Linked DNA regions of Homo sapiens: region 1 is linked to region 2. A link means that fine-mapping ties the variant in region 2 to the plasma level of a protein whose gene starts in the linked region. Region 2 holds a variant in brackets. A gene starts in the other region. All regions are shown on one strand. Distances are from middle to middle.

Region 1 (8,334 bases), 81 Mb before region 2:
GGCTCCTGGGGAGGAAGGACTCTAACGGGGAAGGAACAGCCTGACGAAGAGGAACTTTGGGTACCAGCCAGCTGACGACAGCAAGATCTGGTCCGGTGCGCGCGGGAGGAAGCTGGGAAGGGACGTCGCGCCCAGATCCCGAGGTCCTTGAGGACCAGGCCCTCTCTGCAAGGAATCGGGGAGGAAAATCTCAAACTATTAATAGAAGAGCGGCAAAAAGGAATTCGTGCGCACCCCTCTCTGTTGGAAGGACCTTCCCTGCCAGAGACCAAGGCTGGCAGGACAGGTATACTTCCCTCAGGGGGAAACAGCCGACAAAGGTGGTCAAGGTCGCCCGCGCAGGCTCCGGAGCTGCACGTCCTGGACGAACACTCCCGTCCCGAGCACAGACGCTGGGTATTTGGCTGCCAGCCCGGGCCCGCCAGGCCGGGCCTGGCACCGCCAACACCTGCTCGGCGGGAACAGGAAGACCTGTGTTCGGGAACTCCCTCCGGCCACCTCCCCGTATCCTCCTGGCCCTCGAAGGTCGAAAGGTGGCCTCTCAGGGACACCCGCCGCTCGCTCGGCTCCTCCCCTCAGCCGGGAGACCCAAGGAATAACAGCCTCTGCGATAGGAGCACGCTCTACCAATCAACCGTAGTCTTCGCCCACGCCTCAGCCGGAGGAAATTGCATTGGTTGCATCATTCTCGGCAGCCGATAAATTGTTTTCTTGGATTGGCTAATAGCGTTCCTTCTCCCCTGTGCCTTCGTCGTCAGAAGCTGGCGATTGGTTAATCGCGTTGCCAAGCTTTGGACGCGGCTCGACCATTGGAGGCCGCGGGCCCGCCCCCGCCGGCTAGGTGAAGGTGAGTGTCTCCTCCAGTCGCAACGGCCAGACCTGACCTGCCAGCTCCGGGCGTGGGGTGAAATCTCTTGATTCCTAGTCTCTCGATATGGCACCTCCGTCAGTCTTTGCCGAGGTTCCGCAGGCCCAGCCTGTCCTGGTCTTCAAGCTCACTGCCGACTTCAGGGAGGATCCGGACCCCCGCAAGGTCAACCTGGGAGTGGGAGGTAAGGATGTAGTGCTCTGGAGTGTGAGCAGCTCGGGGAGTGGAGCGGACCCAACCCAGGTCGTGGAGACTGTGGGAGAAGCCGAGGCCCAGTGTGGCGCTGCCTGAAGAGGGCGGCGCCGGAGAGGAGGCTGGATCCACGAAGGCTTCCTAAAACCTGCCCATTTTACAGATGCAGGTGTGGAGTCCCTGGAAAGGGGCGATGTGTCCGAGGCCGCACAAACCAGGTGTAGCAGCCAAGACACAAACTCAGTCTTTCCGATTCCCCATTCTGCCTTCTTTATACTGCATCCTCCTAAGAAATGAGGCTGCCGGAGCTTGTAGAGAGAGGTAGAAAAATAGGAAGCCTGATAGGCTTAGGGTTCTGGTTGCTAGGAAATGGGTAAAGGAGAACTTTTAACGCTAGAAAGCTCTGTTCTGAGTCGGTAAATATTTGAGTGACCACCGAGTATCAATCAGCCACCTTATTAAGCTTTGTAGGGGGAGACTGAGGCTTGATTTTGCCCTTAAGGATTTAAAAATCTGCTGGTGTTACACAATGCTTTGAGACAGGTTAATGCTGCCCCCGGGGGGTCTGGGGAGATGGTTCTGGCCGTCACAGATGTGGTAGGAATGGGTAGAGATGGTGGAAAGGAGTGGAGAGAAGTATGGATGGTAGAAGCTTACTTTCCACACATCCTATCTTCATTTCTTGATTCAAGTGATTCTCTTCTGTACCTTGGACAGCTCAGAGCATGGGCCTCAGTTTCCCCATCTGCCAAGAAGATTTATATTGGAGTGCCTCTCAAATTTTTTACCCCTAACCCTCTCTGATGAATTTGTTATTCTTCTCACTATCATTTGGATGTTTGAAGCCCCACAGACACTTATTTTCTCCATTTGGATTTTGCCACGTGCAAAGACCAGCCAGAGAGATGAAAATGGGTAGGATAAAGTCTTATGCTAGGTAATAGACTTAGAATAAAAGGACTAGAAATTGTGGAAAGAGAAGGTGGAATCATTTTGTAGCAGAGTGTGACATGAAGGACGCTCAGAATCAGGTTTCTCATAGATAACGTTTTGTCTGTGCATAGCATTTGTTAAAAAAAAAAAAAAAAAGTCGGCCGGGCGCGGTGGCTCAGGCCTGTAATCCCAGCACTTTGGGAGGCTGAGACGGGCGGATCACGAGGTCAGGAGATGAGACCATCGTGGCTAACACGGTGAAACCCCATCTCTACTAAAAATACAAAAAAGTATCCGGGCGTGGTGTTGGCCGCCTATAGTCCCAGGTACTCGGGAGGCTGAGGCAGAAGAATTGCTTAAACCCGGGAGACGGAGGTTGCAGTGAGCCGAGATCGTGCCATTGCACTCCAGGCTGGGCGACAGAGCGAGACTCTTTCTCAAAAAAAAAAAAAAGTCTTCACTAAGGAGTATGGGGAGGGGTAAGGAAAAATCCATTGAAAAGTGATGGTTTGTTGAAGCGGGTAATTTGTTGAAGCTGGATGATGGGTACATGGGCATACGTTATATTATTCTCTCAGCTTTTGTATAGGTTTGAAATTTTTCATCATAAAGCTTTTAAGATAAGTCAGTACTACATAGTTTGGCCCATTGAGGGAAAATGATGTTTTTAGCAGGCAACTGAGTGGGAGAAATGTTGAAAGATTGCCTCAAATTGAATTTGAATGGACACCATTTGGTCTCTTAATTTAAAACCAGTCCAAAACCTCCAAGCGTTTCTTTGCAGCGGGATGTATACAAAGAACTAGTATTACTGTCAATCTAAATACATCTTTTTAAAACGTCAGATTTTGCCTGCCACGGTGGCTCACGCCTGTAATCCCAGCACTTTGGGAGGCCAAGGCAGGTGGATCACCTGAGGTCAGGAGTTCGAGACCAGCCTGGCTAACATGGTGAAACCCCATCTTTACTAAAAATACAAAAATTAGCCAGACGTGGTGGTGCACACTGGTAGTCACAGCTACTTGGGAGGCTGAAGCAGGAGAATCGCTTGAACCTGGGAGGTGGCGGTTGCAGTGAGCCAAGATCACGCCATTGTACTCCAGCCTGGGTAACAGAGTGAGACTCCGTCTCAAGAAAGAAAGAAAAAAAAAAACAAAAAACCACGTCAGATTTATTTTATTAATTCAATTTACCTTTGAACTATCTTACAGGGTTTCTGTGAGGATTAAGTACATTTAAAGTGTTTATAGCTGTATTTGGCACATAAGTAGGATTTATATAAGTGTTAGGTATTACTGTTATTGTTGTTTTGGCATTTCTTTGAGTGATTCTCATAAAAGATATTGAATAAAAATTTTCAGTTCAAGAACTGCAAAATGAACTAATTTATGACCTTGGTTCAGAAATAAACTGCTCCTGCAGAGAAAAAGCACCCCGACAGCACAGGCCAGAAGCAATGGACTCAGAATTGGAGTCATTGACTCAGACGGCCACCTCAGCTGTGAAGGTGCCTTTGTCATGTTTTCCAGGAACTCCAACTCCTTACCATGAGCAAATTATTTATGCATGTAATCTCACTGAATGCTCACAACTCTGGAGGGTGGTTTATTACTATTACTGTTTAGAGGCAAGGAAGCCGAAGACTGGAGAGGTGAAGCAATTTGCCCCAGGTCATTTGACCACTGGGTGGTAGAGCTGGGAATCCAGGCCAGGTCTCTCAGGCCTCAGAGTCTCTGCCCACACCTGTATTTCAGGTACCTCCAGGTGGTAGCCAGTACACTGTAGTGGGAAGAGCCAGGAGACCTAGGTACAGGCCCAGCACCGTGGTCCAGCCATGTGACTTGGAAGGGTTGTTTAACATCCCTGGGGCTCATCTGTTAAATGAGGAGCCAAGATTGAATGACCTCTCTCCCAAATTCTACTCTTAAGATTCTACTGGGCCAGGCATGGTGGCTCACGCCTGTAATCCCAACGCTTTGGGAGGCCGAGGCGGGCGGATCACGAGGTCAGGAGATTGAGACCATCCTGGCTAACACGGTGAAACCCCGTCTCTACTAAAAATACAAAAAAATTAGCAGGGCGTGGTGGCGGGCGCCTGCAGTCCCAGCTACACGGGAGGCTGAGGCAGGAGAATGGCGTGAACCCAGGAGGCGGAGCTTGCAGTGAGCTGAGATCGCGCCACTGCACTCCAGCCTGGGCAACAGAGTGAGACTCCGTCTCAAAAATAAATAAATAAATAAATAAATAAAAAAGATTCTACTGTACTAAAAGTCAACTCCACAATTCACTAGCACATTCTATGACTGTAGCGTAGGATAATAATTTTACTGGCCTCATCAGTTGTCTGAGGATTAAATGAATAATTATATGTGAAATGTGATATATAAATGAAAAGTGTCATATATAAGTGTTATTTTTGATCATCACTGTGACCCGTCTTTTTGTGGATAGCAGGTGTTTGGATAAGGATCTAATTAGAGTAGAATAAAAGGTCTCCTTCCAGCCGTTATATGTCCTAGTCTTATTTATACACATCCCCAAGTATACCCCTTGTGAAGAAAATGTAATTAATCATTGACCTTAGGGAAGATACTTTTTTTCCCCCAAGTTAATATAAAACCTAATGGAGGTTATCTAGTTAATGTTCCAGTGATTTTGGACACGTTTAGAATAAACTGCACCTGTAATCTCAGACAGTTCCTACTTGCAGCTAGTTTCCTCAGTTTTTCTTCTTGCTGTGATGATTTAAATAATTTCCTTATAGGTAAACAGAGGAGAGTATCACATTTTCCACTGCTAAGCACAATGCTTTCTAAGTTGATCATTTTAGTGCTTCTCAAAGCTTCAGACTGAAGTGGTTTTAAGGACATGGGAAATGGATCCAACCTGGTGCAACCTGTAGCAAGAAGTTTCTTCAAAGACTCCAGTCCATTTTTTCATGTGAGCCTAGCTTTCTTTTGGCCCAGATAAACTCTGCTAGCTTTAATATTTCTTATTTTCAACATGGTTTCCTAGCATCTTCAAATAAAATAGTTGGGAAAATATGCTTTATCAGATGTTTCTGAGTACCCCTAGCCTTCTCCCCAGTATCCTAATAGGCTCTTGAGTGGGGATAGGTGAGGGAAGTGGCGATCTTAGGAGGAAGATGAGGGTGATGGTTTGACCATTTAAATCTGTGTTCTTTCTTCCTTTCCTTCTGCAAAGCAAGACTGCTGGGCCCACCTGTAGACTGTGTGACTCCCCTAAAAGGGTTTATGTCCAGGAAGAAGAGCAGTGGGGCATGGAGCTGGGGAGCATGCTGATAAAAAGGCCCCTGACATGGTCCCAGGGGCCTGCTTGCTTCAGGCTTTCTCTAGACATCTCTTGCTTTTAAAAAAGCACATGGATCCATGAACTTAATAGTATGACAGCCTAGCTCTTGTTATCTCTGTGATCCTGGGCAAATGGTTTGACTTTTCTGGCTGCAGCAGCCAGATCCTTAAAATAGACATCACAATATCTATTTTGTGGGTTGCTATCCAAATTAAATGAGAGTAAAGAAATGTATTTAGTGCAGTACCTTGTATGTACAAAGTATTTAGTAAATCCGTGTTGTTATTTCTCTGCCCTCAGGTTCCGTCAATGTCTTTCTCCATGCCCCAGACCTCATCTCTGAATGTCAGGCCTACAGTGGACACATCCTACAACTCCCTCAAATTCAGCATGTTCAAAGCACAGCTCATCATTTCCACCTTCCCCTTGATCTTTTCTTCTATCTTCCCCTTGTGTTCTAGGTCTTGGTCGACCCCACTACCACCATCCACTCATTATCCAGACTTGAGGGAGACCTTGGAGTCAACAGCAGCCCTTTCCCCAATCCCCTGTCTTTTTATTTGGTCAATAGGTTCTGTCTTTTCTACCTCGAATCTATTTCCAATGGCACCCCTTTTCTTCATCCCTGCTGCCATTGTGTGAATTCAAGGCCTCATTATTTCGCTTCTGGAATATTGCAGTAGCTTTCTACTCCTTCTACTTCTAGTAACTCACCCTTCTTAACTACTGTCTCTGTCCTTCTCTCTGGTTTATTTTCTGTGGTGTCACTCAAATGATCCCATTAAAATGTGCAGCTGCTCATGTTACTCTCTTGCTTAAATGCTTTCAGTGGTTACCCATTGAAACTGAAGTTCCCTAAAAGAGACTCCAGGATTCTTTTAGCCACTCCCAGCTAATCCTTAGTGGATTCCACATCAGAGTCATGAAAATGCAGATCCTCAAAGACCTCATGCTCCCCAGGCCTCTGGGGCCTTGCACAGGTGTGCCCTCTCGCATGCCCTTCTTCCCTTGTTTACCTTTTAAACTCTTATTCATCTTTCATTCTTCATTCTCTGTAAAATCTTCTCTGATTCCTCAAATTAGAATTAAAGGCTCTATCTATGCTCTGTGTTTCTTGGAGGGCAGATGGGATCTTATTTTATCAATCTCTATAGCTTCTACTAGCCAGTGCCTGGCTCATGGTGAGACTTAGTAAGTACTTGTTATGTGAGCGAGTGAATGAAAGAGTGAATGAGAAACTCAAGGGTCCAACAAATAGGAATAAAAATTCTTGGGGACAGCAGGAATAGTGGTTGTTGTTAATGCCTGACCCCACTGCTCCAGTCACCCAAGAGGAATCTGGTTCTGCTTCACTAGGGCAGTTAGGAGAGGCATCAGGAACAAATCTAGAACTCAACCTGGGAAAAACTGGGCAATGGAGAAGGAAGGGGAGTTGTAAATTGGCCAGTTTTTTTTTAGTCACAGTATAGACACAATGCCTCTCCAACCATCCCCAACCCAAGTAGTAGTATTGGAATTTTAGAGTTTCACAGAGTATTCAGTAGTGGTAAGAACAGCAGTATTCCAGTCTTTTCTTTCTCTTTCATATTTTATTTATTCATAGCACATTATTTGTGAATGACATATTATCATAAATATAAACACATAGCCTAATAATGTTATAGAATAGATATAACACCCAGACACAGAACTGAAACATAACAGAACTGGTTTTTCTATAAACATCCCAAATTTTTTTGCATCTACCTAGTATCCTTTGTAGGTAGTTCAAATATGCTTTTCTTGTTCCAAGATTTCTAGAAACCCCTTTTAGACTAGCTATCAAGGCATGTAGGACCCACACAAGGGATCATTTTTTAAAATAATTGTTCTCCGTAAGTTTTACCCAGCTTATTCACTCACTCTTTTCAATGGAGATGATGCAAATGCTATTCCCGAAAAATAATTGACTTTCAAAGGACAAAGATTTGGCACTATTGAGGCTATTCAAAATAATGAGATGTTGCCTCTAGAAACAATTCCAAAAGAAGTTTCAAGAATATTTTGAACAATGGTAACGTTGTGATCATAGATATGTTGATGTGCTTTAGGGACAACTCTTACTTGGAAGTAGCTATTTTGGTACATCTTTAGAGAAGCCAGACCAAATCCCAGCTGGCGAAGGAGGCTTTTTGAACTTGTTGAGAAGTTTGGTGGACTAAGGGGTATATCATGAATGGTATGAGAGTATTGTGAGTTGGGCCAGGCATGGTGGCTCACTCCTGTAATCCCAGCACTTTGGAAGTCCGAGGCGGGAGGTTTGCTTGAGCCCAGGAGTTTGAGACCAGCCTGGGCAACAAAGTGAGGCCCTGTTTCTATGAAAAATTTAAAAAAAAAAAATTAGCTGGTCCTGGTGGTGAATGACTTTGGTCTCAGCTACATGGGAAGCTGAGGCAAGAGAATTGCTTGAGCCCAGGGGGTTGAAGCTGCAGTGAGCTGTGTTCGTGCCACTGCACTCTCACCTGGGCAACAGAGTGAGACCCTGTCTCAAAAAAAGAAAAAAATATTGTGAGTTAGATTCACCAGAGCCGGAGGGTAGACTATGAGTGGTATGAGAGTATTGTTTGATTCACCTACCCAGAGGCATTTGGTCAGTGGCTCTGTCAGTCTGTAGCCCTGTCCACATTTCTATTACTAACTTGAAATGTTTCTCAGATTTGCAGATGACATATTCCTGGAGGGTAGAGTTAGCTGATCATTCAAAATGATCTTATAAAGTCTTTTTACTGTATATCCTGTGACCTAATAAATTAACATTTAGATATTTTTCCTAAGAAAACACTCATGAATATGTGTAAATATATGAACATTTATCACAATGTTTATAATAGCAAATAATTTAAAGCAACACAGTTAATAAATTATATATAAAACAAATATTATTTATCCACTAAACTGATGTTGTAAATGGCTCATATTTATGAAAAATACCCAATTGCATTCATAATAAGATAAATGCAAATTAAAACTACTTGACATATTATATTGGC
Region 2 (8,337 bases):
TATCCTTAGCATATAGCACAATACCTGGCACTTAAGAGGTATAAAAATTTTACAAATGACTTCCATCTGCCCCTCTTCTATCCTATTTAGGGAAATTGCCAAAAATGATTTTGTTGAAGGGAATCAGAACATACTGCCCCAAAATATGCCACTGTAGCATATTGATTATTTTGAGCTGAAGGCAACTGACAAACAGCAGGTACAGGAAGGATTCTCTGCCTTTCGCCTTACTATCTAAAAGCAGGGCATAAGTTTCCCATTAGAAAGGTATCCTTGCTGTATCAGGAAGAGGAGAACATTCTTATCACTGGAGATGGGGAATTAATGCTGAGATGAACCTATACAAACGAACTTTACTAAAATAATCCTCCATTGGTATAATGTTAAAAAAAATTTTTGGTTTCCCATACATATTTCCTAGTCACTTTCCCACAATTTACCATCTCTAGTCCAAATTCACTTTTTTTCTTACTCTTGTCACATCCCCACAATTTATTACTCTTTGTTAAAATGGTATATAAACCCCTGGGTCTAACCACTTCTTTGGAGTTTTCACTTTTTCTATGATGCCCCTATTCCACATAAAAATATTAACATCAAATGTGTGTGCTATTTCTCCTGTTAATCCATCTTTTGTCCATTTCGTTCACAAGCCCCAGCTACAGAATTTAAGATGTTAGAGGAAAAGTCTTTCCTCCCCTCCACTGTGCTGCCTTATTTGTTTCACAAGCCACAAGCACATGCCCAGCTCCTGCAATCTGAGAAGTTTACTTGACATAAGGGATTCGGATAAATGTTGTGGGACAGTGAGAAAAAGACACAGGAATTGTGGACCAGAAGCTTTCTCAGCAAGAGGGAAGCTGCCTTTCTGCAGAGACAGTTGGGGAGCTCCTGAGAATTCTCACAGGATCTGAGAAGCAGCCCCACGACATAGCCACAGAGTGAAAGCATTGAGAAACGCCTGTCGTGACTCCCAGACAGATTTGTCCCATGGTGGGGATATTGTACTACAATATCTTTTAATCTAGTCTTCTTTGAAGTGGAAGTTTTGGGGGTTCTAATTCAAGGTCTGCTGTACAACCCACTGTGTAACATCTGCTATGTAATCATCTGAGTCAGGAAGAAACAAATGTCATCCATCTCCAAATCAAAGCATAATCACATTCTTCATAAAACCACACAGACTTTAATCTCTCCTGAACCCAACTGCAGGGGGTCAAGTACTCAAACAGAGGAGACCCAGGGGTTCCACTAAGACCAACTCTCAATGTGGATATTAGGCTCCACCTGTAAAACCTCAGCATCCCTTTTCTGTTTCCTAAGTAGCCCAGAAGAAAAGTCCACACCTTGGTAGCTGATGGCAAGGCTGACACCAAGACCCAAAAAGCGAATCCATTGAAATAAAAGTGTAATGAAAAACTTACACTTTTATAAAAAGTGTAAATAAAAAAATGGAAATAAAAGAGGTTCTTTGTACAAAATAGCCTCCTGAAACTAAACTATTGGTACTATTAGCTACAATTTGTTGGTAGCCATGTGCCCAGCAATGTGCAGAGTATCTTTTGCATTCAGTTATTCCTTGGTGCATAATCTAATTGGTTTTGAAAAATGCATAAAGTAATGAATTTTTTAATAAGAACCCTATATTATTATTTTAAGTGTGAAAAACAAAATGTCTCCAGCCTATGTAATAATCCACCAAATATTTCTAAATATTTGATTTTTATAATATAAAGCAACTAGAAGATCAATTACTCAATTATTTAATGCACAATGAATTAATGGATACATTTGTGTACGGTATGCAAGGATACTGCAAAGAACACATGAATTACACCTTTCTTCATGAGAAAAGTTTACTCATAGAATGTGTGAAAACCAAGACTAAAGCGGATAAGAAACTTGCCCAAAGCTACACAGCTGATGGTGGAGAGCACTGTTAGTCACAATTCCTGCTCTTCGAAGAACAGGACCCATTCTTTTATTCCTTCCTTTTGTGCCATGGAGAACACAGGCTGTGGACCCACTGATGTACTTGTTAGGCAACCACTTTGACCGGTAATTTTTCTCTCCCTCCTATTTGATGGGAGTAGAGGTCAGTTAGGTGGCTAAGAGATTGGTCCAAGTCTAACATCAATCAGAACAAGGACATGGTACAACGAGAGCGTTGAATGAGTTTATGTTATACTTTCAAGTGCTACTCAGGTTGTTTGATGGGGCTGGGTAGGTAGGAAGAAGAATGTCTATGATGCAAGGAGTAGGACGCTCATGGGGCCATGAGACCAGGGCAGGGCTTGGTGTATGAGCACATGGCAGAACATGTGACCATATTTCAACCCATCTGAGATGCGGAGACTCCTGTCCATGCATCATTCTTCCTCAGTGTCTTTGCCATGTATCTTTCCAGGGTTGGAATTGGAATGCAAGGCACGGAACAGCAGAGAGCAGGGTCCGCACTATAATCGTGTGGGTAGGCATTCCACAACTGTGTATAAAAGGCATACAATATGGAAGGTACAATTGGTTTCTGGCTTTGGAAAGCTTGAAACAGCTGTAGAAGCATCTTCTTTTGTCGGAACAGAGATTTTGGTAACCTTGAATGAACACGTGTTGCATCACATTTGCTTTGATTTTTTGAGGCCTGCTAAATCAAAGCTTAATTGTGAATCAAATGACCACGGGCTGGAAACCTTCCTCCCTTTTATAATATTTGAATCGTAAAGAATTTATTTTAATACAGAAGGCTGTGGCTTGAGGAAAGAATACAGGTGGAAGCCTCAGAAAAGCTAACATAAAATAAGAATTCTTCCCCTGGACATAGATATGACAAAAAGCTCTACTGGGGCTGTTGGATGAGGACAGAGCTGGAATTTTCAGTTCGACGCCACTAGATTTGTTTTGTTGTTAATGTTTTTAGAAGTTGGCTCAGTTGTGTTTGGGAGAGGATATTTAGCAAAATGTCGCAAATACTGCCACCCCACAGGCATCAAGATCTGTCCAAGGCTGCTGCCTCTGGTGAAGCAATTCTTTGTTTAAGAAGAATGGACTCATTCAGGAATAATCCATTGATTTTCCTTTTAATCTTGTCAGGTGGGGGAAAAAGGTTTGGGGCGGGGGGAATCTCATAAATTCTGGGAATTAGTTTTAATGACTTTATAAGGAAATAAACTTTGGGAAAAGACTGATTAAAATGCAAGGAGAGGCTCCCCTTTCAAGCTAAACAGGCTACTCGGACACTTGGTAGTAATTGTCCACCACATCCTGGAGCCACATCACATGGTCTCACCCAGCCTTGAAATTCAGCTTTGCTTATGATCTATGCCAGGTGAGAGCCTCAGCTGACAAAAAACAACTTGGTAGCTGTCTTCTCCTACATCAGTAAGACAGCTGTCAGGCCTCCAGGATAAACTTTAGGGGTTTTAGACTGAAAGATGTTTAACATTTGATTTTAAACAATGGGAAATTTTATATTATAGAAACTTGAGAACTTAAAAGAAGACAGTCTCTTTTAAGTTCTCAGGTTTCTATAAGGTGTTTTTTTCTTTTCCGGAGGTGGGGGGTGGCTAACAATTGATTGTAAATATAAGAGAGAACGTGTATGTGTTTTTTTCCTGACAAAGAGCTGGAAGGATGTTGCCGATGGCAGGTACTGGCTCTTTAGGGTCTGTACTAGATTTAGTGGGTCTTCTGACTGACAAGAAGTTTTTAACTGAGAAGAGTTAAGATGAAATTGTTAGATAATAAGACAAAGCTGGGTGTTTTCCACACTTTATTCCATGACAGTTATGTCAGGGGCTAGGGCCAGGTGTGAATTAAATGGAGACCCTTAAAGCAGTGGTTCTCTGCTTTGAATGTGTCTAAGAATTGCCTGGAGAACTTCGTTTAAAATCCTCAGAATCAAGGACAGTGGAGGGGAGCCTGGGACACAGGTGGGTGGGAGATTCTGAGGAATGGCGCTGCTCTAGTGTCCCTGGAAAAGGAGGAATCAGACATTGCTGTGAGGCACAGGGAACAGAAGGAACTTGAGCTCCTATATCTGACTTTCTGCATATGTGTCCATGAGATCCTGAGAGATCTGATTCCTAAGGAGAACATGTATGTCCATGAGATCCTCAGAGATCTGATTCCTAAGGAGAACATGTATATCCATGAGATCCTCAGAGATCTGATTCCTAAGAAGTACATGTATGTCCATGAGATCCTCAGAGATCTGATTCCTAAGAACATGTATGTCCATGGGATCCCCACAGAGATCTCCCTGAGGAGCACATGTCCATGAGATCCACAGAGATCTTCCTGGGACATAATACATCTATGTCCACATGATTCTCAGAGATTTGATCCCTGAGGGCATATGTGTCCATGTGATCCTTGCAGAGATCTCCCCGGGGAGCACACATGTCCGTGTGATTTTCACAGATATCTCCCTCAGGGGCACATATATATCCATTTGACCCTCACAGACATCTGGCGCCTGAGGAACATGTGTTTGTCCATGTGGTCCTCACAGACCTCCCTGAGGAGGGGCTCATTATCCCAGCCTTCAGGGTGAGGAAGCTGAGGCTCCACATGTCTCAACACTAGAAGGTGCCAGAAAAGGGCCCTTTTCCTTTCAGAAACATGTGTAGGGTTATGGTTCTCATAATTATTGAAGTAGAATGTATTGTTTTGGAGTTATTTAATCTCTCACGATGTTCATTAAAACTATATTCTACCCCTTCTCATTAAAGAAAGAAAAAGCCAGGATCAGCCCAGAACTATTCATTTTCAAAGACTGCAGCTTGACTGAATTTATTTTAAATGTGCAATGCTCTCAGATACTTCACATTGGCTTTTTAAAAAATTCACTTTTTATACAGACGTAAAATTGGAAGCATTTTTACTCCCAACAAATTCAAGATACCTAC[T/C]TCCCTCTTTTTTCAGACATTTAGGGATATGAAGAAACCCCCTTAACCTCTCTTTTTACGATAGAATTTGTAGCATGAACCCTGCCTGTCAGCAGACAAAGTCCCTCAGATGACAGAACAGACTCGGCCACAAGCTGAAGCTCTGTGGTTCGCGCCAGAACCCGCGTGTTTGTGAAATTCAGAGGACTCTGTTTCCTCCCTCTTTTCATGAATGATGGGAGACATTTCCTAAGCTCCTTCCTGATGGGTGATTGGGGTGAACTGAAGCCTTCTGAGTAGGTAAAGCTGAGACTCACTTCTGCTTCACCTGCCTTTCTTTCACAGAGAAGGAGGGTGAAGCTATTTAAGATGGTGTTTCAAGTCCTAGGAATGGAACTGATTCAAATGGGGACCAAATTGGCTAAACTCCTGATACTGTCACAGAAAACAGTAAGTGCTAAACAATCCTTCCCCCAGCCCTGAAAATGGAGAACAATTTTGCATATTTACCTTCCCCCCTGGCAAAACTACTATTCAACCAGCCTTAATAAGGCACTTCACGTCATTAAAGGAGAACATTCCCCTGAAGCGAATCCTCAGAGGACATGAATAAGAGATGACTTCTGGTTATTTCCAGTGGGACATCTTGTGTTGCCATCTATATATATTAATGTCATCACAGATGAGTTGCCTATTATAACACATTTCCTCTGGGAACCATTGGGTATTTTAATAATTATTGAATTATTTATTGCTCACACAAAGCAGAGAAAAATTCTCTATGAGCAAGAACTCTTCTGTTATGAAAAAACAAAACACTTGGTCAGAAAATGTTCCCCTCCCCTCCCTCCCTCGCCTCTGCATGATTGAGAAAGTCTGCCAAAATGTATTTTGGAGACGGTTGTTAGCTTTTGTTTTACTTATTTATGTATGCTTTCATTTATGTATTTATGGGTTCGTCCTAAAAAATCTCGTGGGTCAGGAATGGGATGGTGGAGTAGGTTTTATTTTTTCTTTTGTAGTCATTTAAACACATGAGTTCTCACCTCCTTCCATCCTACCCCACCCTCCCTAATGAATAAATTCTTAGACATCACTGACGTCATATTAAAGTGACCTGGAGGCCGGGCGCCGTGGCTCACACCTGTAATCCCAGCACTTTGGGAGGTGGCGGCAGGCAGATCACGAGGTCAGGAGTTTGAGACCAGCCTGGCCAACATGGTGAAACCCCATCTCTACTAAAGATACAAAAAAATTAGCCGGCCGTGGTGGTGGGTGCCTGTAATCCCAGCTACTTGGGAGGCTGAGGCAGGAGAATCACTTGCACCCACGAGGTGGAGGTTGCAGTGAACCAAGATTATGCCATTGCACTCCAGCCTGGGCAACAGGGCGAGACTCTGTCTCACAATAAATAAAATAAAATAAATAATAACCTGGAGAGACTTTTAAAAGTTCTATCCCAGGCAAGTAAAATCTCAGTCTCTAGAGGATGACACCTAAACATGGGTATGCTGGGAAACCTATGCAGCTGATTCCAATCAGGGTTGAGATTCGCTTTGTAGGCTAAGATCAGGCTGTGACTCAGGCCTCAGGAGCCATGGGTGCGACTTCAGCTCCACCTGCAGCATCTGTCTCCCCAGCTCAGATTCCTCATCGTTAAGATGATTATCCAATCATTAACTACCCGCCATGCATAATATTAGAAAATACCATGCCAGGAAAAAGTACTCAAAAACCCAATGTTGGGCAAATATCAGATCGCATTATGCTCCAGCAAACAAATAGCAACTAAAACTAGTCACGTGCAAGTGCACTGAAGGCTTTAAGAAAAGATTAGTCAATCAGAAAAGAGGACTAAAAGTTCGCGCTCACAAATAAATGCCTCTAAATATGCAGAAGGGTTCTAGAAAGCCTTACATAAACATCATCCTTTCAACAACAAAAATGTCCCTAGGTGCTATACATAGAATGCTGATTTGCTGTATCCCAAATATGGAAATTATTTTACCAGAATGCATTGCTCAATTGCATATTGGAAGATTTGCCTGTGATTTTGCTTTACTGAAATAAATCCCTATAGAATCCATTGCTTTCTTTTGGACATGCCCTGATACCTGACCCCATTCTATTTCACTAACCAGATTGCAATCTCCTTGCATTCCGTTTCTCCTCCGTGGGCACCCAGTTTTCTCCAACAATGTTTTGATGAGGCTTCTTGAGTGGTTGTGGGGTGGGTGGTCACCAGCAGAGAGAACCTGTAGCAGGTCTGCCGGTTGGCCTGAACTCCCACGGCTTCTGCTATCCTGGGCTGAGGGTTTGTCTGTCTCAGTAGAAAAAACACGGCTGAGTAGAAGAAACAATGGCACCCAGGATACTGAGAGCTTTGTCCGGAAGCACATTTCCACGCTTCCTCCACCTTGAGTCTGTCTTGGATGGAGGTGAGTGTGTTGCCGTTTATGGGGTAAACTTGTAACCAAAGGAATTTCTGTGGTAAAGGGGAAAAATAAAGCCTTCAATTATTGTGCCTGCAACATGTTTGAAAGGATTCATTAATTGGGTGGCTAAGCTGATTTGCAATGACAAGCTGTTTCTACACAGCGGGGGTCTGTAGGTAATTTCTAACCCCAAATGGCAGGAAAGCACCATGGCTGTAGACTTTCAAACTGCACAGCAGCCAAAAAGCTTGCTAGATTCTCTCTCCCTAAACTAAACATAGCGTCACGTAAGTTTCTCCATTTACCAACAGGTGGTACAAGTTATAGGACCCAGGTTGGGAAACACCTTATGTTTATCCCATTATAAAGAACTCCAAGTGATTCATGGTCCTCATGAAAAAGAGAAAATAAATTCTACTAAATGACCAACATCATGTTGAGTTTAAAAGTTTTAGGCCAGGCGCGGTAGCTCACACCAGTAATCCCAGCACTTTGGGAGGCTGAAGCAGGCAGATCACGAGGTCAGGAGTTTGAGACCAGCCTGGCCAATATGGTGACACCCCCGTCTCTACTGAAAATACAAAAATTAGCCAGGTATGGTGGCACGTGCCTGTAGTCCCAGTTACATGGGAGGCTGAGGCAGAAGAATTGCTTGAACCCGGGAGGCGGGGGTTGCAGTGAGCCAAGATCGTGCCACTGCACTCCAGCCTGGGCGACAGAACAAGACTCCATCTCAAAAAAAAAAAAAAGAAAAAAGAAAAAAGAAAAAAAAAGAGTTTTAGACAAGGAAAAGCACTAGAAGAAAATAGTAATGTTCAGAAAACACAGGTCTTTTTTTTAGTTTACTAAGAATCAAGATTCTAGAGCAGGAAGCATCTTAGAAAAACAGAATTTCGAGACCTCAAGAACATGACACACACACACACACACACTCACTCAGTGGTGACTAAAGGAGTGGGGGATGACTTTAGAGCCAATCAACTTCCTGGAAAAAAAAATTATCTTTCTGTTGATGG

Alleles and levels. Positions count from the first base shown, and alleles are read on the strand shown. Strength reflects both the effect of a copy and how common the allele is.
As copies of T replace C in region 2, the plasma level of the protein whose gene starts at base 876 in region 1 goes up (weak association).

The links. PIP is the posterior inclusion probability: the model's chance that the variant is causal. Protein levels are from antibody-based Olink assays in UK Biobank. Linkage for the fine-mapping came from a reference panel and not from the study's own genotypes, which makes the PIPs less certain.
Region 1: GOT1 starts here. The variant in region 2 is fine-mapped to the plasma level of the GOT1 protein (UK Biobank, PIP above 0.99).

Annotation. Positions count from the first base shown.
Region 1 is chr10:99,423,166-99,431,499 of GRCh38, reverse strand. GOT1 (glutamic-oxaloacetic transaminase 1) reads left to right here and starts at 876. Exons shown (of 9, transcript NM_002079.3): 1 at 876-1,052. The coding sequence starts at 935. It overlaps GOT1-DT (GOT1 divergent transcript), which reads right to left and starts at 564. Exons shown (of 5, transcript NR_183993.1): 1 at 235-564. RefSeq lists enhancers at 296-725, 906-955, 976-1,035.
Region 2 is chr10:17,952,225-17,960,561 of GRCh38, reverse strand. SLC39A12 (solute carrier family 39 member 12) reads right to left here. Exons shown (of 13, transcript NM_001145195.2): 2 at 7,025-7,371. The coding sequence starts at 7,285. Among named protein-coding and RNA genes, the nearest start is that of SLC39A12, 4.5 kb to the right of the region's middle. The variant T/C (reference allele first, on the strand shown) is at 4,908.